2 separate regions of the Homo sapiens genome follow, and region 1 is reported to be linked to region 2. The links are microRNA targets in miRTarBase. Many come from high-throughput screens and were not tested one by one. Region 2 holds a microRNA gene; the other region holds the end of a gene's coding sequence.
The links. Region 2 holds the annotated microRNA hsa-miR-30c-5p (UGUAAACAUCCUACACUCUCAGC, at 1,370-1,392, shown strand). A microRNA usually pairs through its seed, bases 2 to 8, with sites in the 3' UTR of a target mRNA and lowers its output. Matches are read on the target gene's strand: a 7mer-m8 pairs with bases 2 to 8, a 7mer-A1 pairs with bases 2 to 7 and ends in A, and an 8mer does both.

Region 1: miRTarBase lists PLXNA1 as a target of hsa-miR-30c-5p. Seed matches in the 3' UTR shown: 8mer at 140-147.

The regions. Positions count from the first base shown.
Region 1 is chr3:127,033,630-127,036,629 of GRCh38, reverse strand. PLXNA1 (plexin A1) reads right to left here. Exons shown (of 32, transcript NM_032242.4): 32 at 1-2,708. The coding sequence ends at 2,613. Among named protein-coding and RNA genes, the nearest start is that of PLXNA1, 52 kb to the right of the region's middle.
Region 2 is chr6:71,375,244-71,378,394 of GRCh38, reverse strand. MIR30C2 (microRNA 30c-2) reads left to right here and starts at 1,364; the gene lies at 1,364-1,435.

The DNA of each region.
Region 1 (3,000 bases), not on the chromosome of region 2:
CACAGTTAGGAGCACAGTGGGAACCAGTGACAAGTAGGGACTGGGGCCTAACTCCACGACCTGGCAGAGGGAGGTACGGAGTAGCTCGGAGACTGCTGTCCCAGTAGACAGCACAGGTAGTCGGCTTGATCCTTGCGCATGTAAACAGATACTGCTAAAGTGCTTGCGCCTAGACACAGCCATGTGCTCTGTGGTGGCCACGCCCCAGCCACACGCCCATGTGGGAACTGCTTCATGAGGCCTGTGGTGCACCCCCTTCATCACCACTGCCGTCCCCACCACCCGCCCATGCTACTCACATGGACAAGGGCAGCCTGGCAGGGCAGAGCAGAGCACAAGGCCTAAGGAGAGTGGGGGTTGGAACTGGATTCTGAAGGTGATGCAGGAGCCCCTACCTAACCCGTGAGGAACTGGAAGAACCAGGGACTTCAACCTGAAGCCAGCATCCAGGGAAGACTTTGGGGGAAACTGAGGTTCCCACCCCACCATAGCCAGGAAACATCAGAAGGGAGGTGGAGGCGCACCCAGGAACAGGAATCCCAGCCAATGCTAGGGGCTACTGAAAAAAACAGCCCAGCCACTGTAATATGGACTGGCCTCAGCTCTGGCCCCCAAGACTGCCCAGGGAGTAAGCCCACCCCCTCAGTGGGCTGGGGGCAGGGGCTGGCCCAGGCCTGAGCTGGGTGTGGCAGCAGCAGAAGGCCCCAGCCCTGGCACAGTGCCCACGGGGCCAAGGAGCTCCCTGAGTCAGCAGTCACTGACTCCACACCGACCCGCGTTCAGGGAAGAGGCGGGTCTCTGTGGCGTCATCTGGCTCACGCTACTCAGCTGGGGCGGACTGCAAGACTGGCACACCCCATGGGGCCGAGTCCTCTCCTTGGGCCTGGCCAAGGACATGGGGCTGAGTCTGGCCACAGTTAGCTGTCCCTTAATGTCCATGGGATCTTCGGTACCATCAAAAAAGTGACCTTGAAAAGGGGATGGACCGCTTGTTTGCTTTTACAAGTGACTGATTAATTAAAAAACATAAAAAAGGGTCTAACAACCTCTAGTATTCAACACTTGCAGTTTTAAAAAGATCAACTCAGACTAAACGCTAGCACAATCATGCATGCCCCGTGGTGCCGCGGCACCCCAGAGGCTCTCAGGGTCAGCAGGAAGTCCTTTCCTTGTCATGTCAAACCAAAACAGCGGCCCGCAGGTCGGGGGGCACAGGCTTCAGGGCTGCTCCACTCCAGGGAGGCTCCGGCCACTTTCTCCACAACCATTTGGCATTGCTTTCCCACTGCCTTCATTTTCTTGTTCAAATCGTCTTTAAAATTCTTCTTCAGTTAACTGTACAGTACCCCACTGGGGCTGGAGCCTGAGGCTAGAGCCACATATATATATATGCATATATATACATGTACAGCTTTCTTTTAAGAATGCATTCTCTCTTGCTGAGGGCAAGGGTGGACACCGCTGGCCTCCAGTCCCTCTGGTCACTGCCCGTCACTCATGGCCCAGATAGATCCAGGCCACTGCGGGCCAGAGGAGCCCTGCCACAGACCTCAAGGCCCAAGCAGAGTGCAGCAGAATTTTTTCCCCTAAACACAAAAACAGTCCCCAGATGTCCCACTGCTCTGGAGGGGCCAGGACACTGCTGAGATGCCACACTGGAAGCCGCTGGGGCAGGGACAGAGAGAGTGGAGAGAGAGGAGTGCTCAGGGGCCGCCCTCAGGGGCTCCAGGGTGGGGAGCTCAGCCTACCCTTGAAGACAGCTGCCAGGGCAGCCTGTGTAGGACGCGGAGGGGAATAAATAACGGGAACGTGCTCTCTGCGACCCGGGGCCCCTGGCCCAGTGGCTCCCAGAGGCACAGCCCTGAGGACGGAGAGGGGCTGCCCGGTCCGTCTGGAAGCCACCCAGGAGTCTGAGCAGCCTGGCCCACAGCCCCTCCATAGGAGGGAGCAGAGCCTCTCTGGGGCGAGGTGGATGTGGTGCTCCGGCCTCGGCCGCGCAGAGCACGCGGTGAATCTGAGGATGGCAGCGGTGCAGCGGGCATGGGTGCTGGAGGTGGGAGTCGGTGGCAACGGGCCCAGACCGACTTGAGCTCCTCTTGCCCGGCTACGGGCTTTTTGCCTCTTTCTCCAGCTGCCAACCGGGCCCCGGGACCCTCAGACTCTGCCGCCTGGGGGCAGCTTGGAAAGCTGGGAATGCTGACACCCCCAGCCTCTTGTCCTGGTCTCAAGGGGACAGCCCAAGCTGGCTACCCCTCCCCCTGGAGGGCCCTGGCCTCACCCCTCAGCCCCTCAGAGGTCAGCCCTTCTCCCATGAAGGCCACTGGGCAGCTCTTGCCAGGCAATGAAGGTCCTTGGCCAGCCTGAGCACCCAGTGCTGTCCCGGCCCCTGAGCAAGCAGCTGTGTGCGCAGCTGTGGTGTGGCAGGTACCATCACCTCCACACAGGAAGAGCCGGGACCCGACCGGGTGAGGCAGGGGAGGGAGGGCCGGGCAGTCGCTGCACTGCGGCGGCCCGAGCACCACCGGACACTCCACACGCATGCGGTGAGGGCTGTCCCGGTCCCTGCTCAGCTGTCCTCACGCTGCATCATGCTGGATGATCACAGCTGGGGCTCAGCTGCTCAGGGCCATCGTGTCCACCACCTGCTCCAGCTTGCTCCGCAGCCGCTGCCGCCGCGCCTGCTCATCCTTCTCCAGGGCTGCCAGGATCTGCAGGGCCAGGAGAACTGTCAGCATGCCGGGCCACCAGCCTCCATGCACTCAGCAGGCCCAGGGCAGATGCCTCCAGAGTAGGTGCCAGAGGTTCAACCCCATCTACCCCTGGCCAAAGGACCTTGGTTGTGAGCCTGGACCCTCCAGGACCCCAATATGGAGAATGAGCCCTGCCCCTGTCATCATCCTACTCTCACCCCCTAAAACAGCAGGCTCTGATCCCTTGGCTGCCTGGCCATGCTGCTGACATGTCCCCACCCAGTCCTCACACCCTGGGGTTTCTGTGCCC
Region 2 (3,151 bases):
CCCTTTAACCTGGCACATAAGGACTCCCATCTTTCCCTTGTGTCTCTCCCCTTACCCTTCACCCACATGCATCTTTGACTCCACCTCTGCTGAATTCTTAAAGGCCTCAGCATACATTACCTTTGTCTTTCTTTCTCTATTGGATGACTGTTCTTTCTGGTACACTTTAAGCTACACTATCTTCTTCACTGCCCACCCCTTCCAAATTCCCATTAGCACCATCTTCACCTAGCTAATTTTATTCAGGCTTCAAGACTCAGCCTGGCTATTAGCCAACTCAGAAGTGTCTTTTGACCCATCATAACACTTATAGTAATGGTGTATGTGTCTGTCTTGCAAATTAAGCTGTGTCCTTCTCGAAGGTAGGGATGATACCCTTCATTTCTCATCACCTAGAATTTAAAACATTGCTGATATATGGCAGGCAGTCACAATTGTTTGTTGAATGAATGAATGAATGAATGAAATGAGTAAGATCCTGTAACAGTTTGGAATTATATGCCACCTGGGTTTACAGTGTAGTCTCTTATCAGGTAGGTTTGTTCTGAGATGTATAGTAATGATGACTTTCTTCTTCGCCCAAGTATTTTGTGTACCTTAGACCAGTTTAGCAAATGAAGTCCAAGAACTATTTGAATAAGTCATTCTTAGAAAATAACTTTAGGAAGCAACTGACTCCATTCATGTGTATGCCTCTAATTGTAGGTTCACTTCTGTCCGAATATGAATTTTTAAAATAATTTTAGCATTATATTAGCAATTTGCAATATACCATTTTTATGCATGTAAAGTTGTATTCTAACATATTTACTTTTTGCTCATTTGATTAAATTTATTACTGTGTATCCCATCATTAAGGTAACTAATTTTCAGTAATTAAACTGTTGGTCTTCTGTTTAGCCATTATTCTCAGTTCTGTGCAGGAGTGAGCTGAAACAAAGTTGTATAGCCCAGAGAGTGAGAAGCTGCATTTCATGTCTCCCAACAGTCAGAAAGGGATTATGTACTGTTTAAGGAAGGAGTTTGGCGAATATTTTGAAACCCTTTTGGGAAAGCATAGAATATTGAAAATCCAAAATTAACCAAATCCGTGAGTGTGCAAGCTCAAAGCTAGAGACCTTAGGAATATCTTAGGATGTGCAAAACAGGAAGAAAACAAGAACTGAGCAGGCAGCACTAAGTAAGTGTCATATAGCCTCCCCACCCACCCTTCCAACCCTACTCCTAAAAGAGCCATAATTTAGTCCCAAGTATACTTTTCTGATCTTTTCCTGTGACATATTATGGTATCTTCAAATGGTACTGGGTTTCCTGAGGCTTGTGCTGCTGACTGCCAACCCCATCCTAGAGAGCACTGAGCGACAGATACTGTAAACATCCTACACTCTCAGCTGTGGAAAGTAAGAAAGCTGGGAGAAGGCTGTTTACTCTTTCTGCCTTGGAAGTCAACTAAAGAGAAATGGATTTTGAATATTTCTATGTCTTAGAATTGATCCTATCCCGTGTTTGTTTCTGAGGTCAACTGTAAAAGGAAAAAAGGTGAATTGACTAAGTCATCCAAAGAAATGTAAGATAATCTATAATATCAGTTATATTTGAACTGTTTCACTTAGTTTAAAAAGAAAAAAAAGATTACCAAATACCCAAGTGACAAAAGTTCTGGTTAACTTGTATGAGGCTACATTTTGTGGGTTGCTGCAGTCTGATCTGTAAAAGCAACACATTACCTATACGTTAAGCTAAACATTTCTCCTTTAACCTGAGAGCATTCCACACTGAAGTCTGCTTTTCTTGAAGCAAAAATTCTAGTGTCCTTGGACTTGCTATTTTATCAGGGATCAAAGGCACCTTGGAGCCCCATGCTTTAGGAATTGTAATGGCAAACAATAAGGTCTGCTCTTTAAAGCTAGAATATAGTTACACATTTCAGGAAAAAATAGAATTGTTGTTGGAGGACGGGAGAGGAAGGAAAATGTAGAGGTAAGGGATGGGATGCAAGAAGTTAATTTTAAGAAAAATCTACAGAACGAACTCATAAGTTCAGCCTTAACCAGAAAAACTCTTTCATGTAAATCGTTTAAATCAAAGGTCTATTAAACATCTAATCTAGAATGTAACTTACCTGAAATTTGAGTCCATTGCTGATTTATTTAAAATTATTATGAAATAAGCCTTCTTGTTAAAGAGAATATTTAAATAAGGCATATTTTTATATAACAAGCCCTTAAGAAGTTAAATAATTAACTTAATGCTTCTATTAAAAATTAAACAAATCTGAACAAAATTACTCTAGTCTTGGCATATCAGCATATATCAGTCATTTAAACTAAAAGACACTCTACTACTTTAGAAGTATTAGAGGAGCTTTTAATTTTACCTCCGCACTGACTGTAGAGCCTAATACAATAGGAGTAATTGTTTCATATGAGTTTATAGAAAAAAAGTTTAAATACAATGACTTTAGCATGTGATTTCAGGGAAGTATTTGAACAGGCTGGCCTTGAAGCAGTGGTAGACACTGTTGAAGTGCCAGCTTGATTGAGTCATTTACCTTTTTAGGTTTGCCTACAGGCTTAAGAAAACCCTCTTTGAAACAATGCTCTACAGTCTTCTCAAAGAAATAATTGTTATAGATGTTTGAAATTTTGCTTTCTGCTAGGAGAGGCAGATAATATGGGTAAGGGGAAAAGCAACTCTAAGCAGCAGAGAATGATGCATATGCTTTGCCATAGCATTTTATTATTCTGCCTAAATTAAAAGGGGGGACATTCAAATATTCCAGATCTAAATTTATGGTTAACTTTTAGTCATGAATGTAGGTGTTTCAAAGCTTATTGAAATACATGCTGAAATTCATTCATCATTCAAGAATTATTTATTGAGCATCTACTATGTGAACTTCTAGGCACAGGGGATATAGCAGAGAACAGAAACAAAGTCCTTTTTCTCATGGAACTTACAAGAAAATATATAATGTGTCAAAATATAAACATCTTGTGTATCTATGTAAAATATCTAATTTTATTCAATCTTTTTATTGCCTTGTCCTCCAAAACCAAGTGTATTTAAATATTCCAGAATATTTCTTTCATTGACTATGGAAAACTTTGATATAAAGCTATATAATTTTGGTTTTTGTTTAGTATTATTC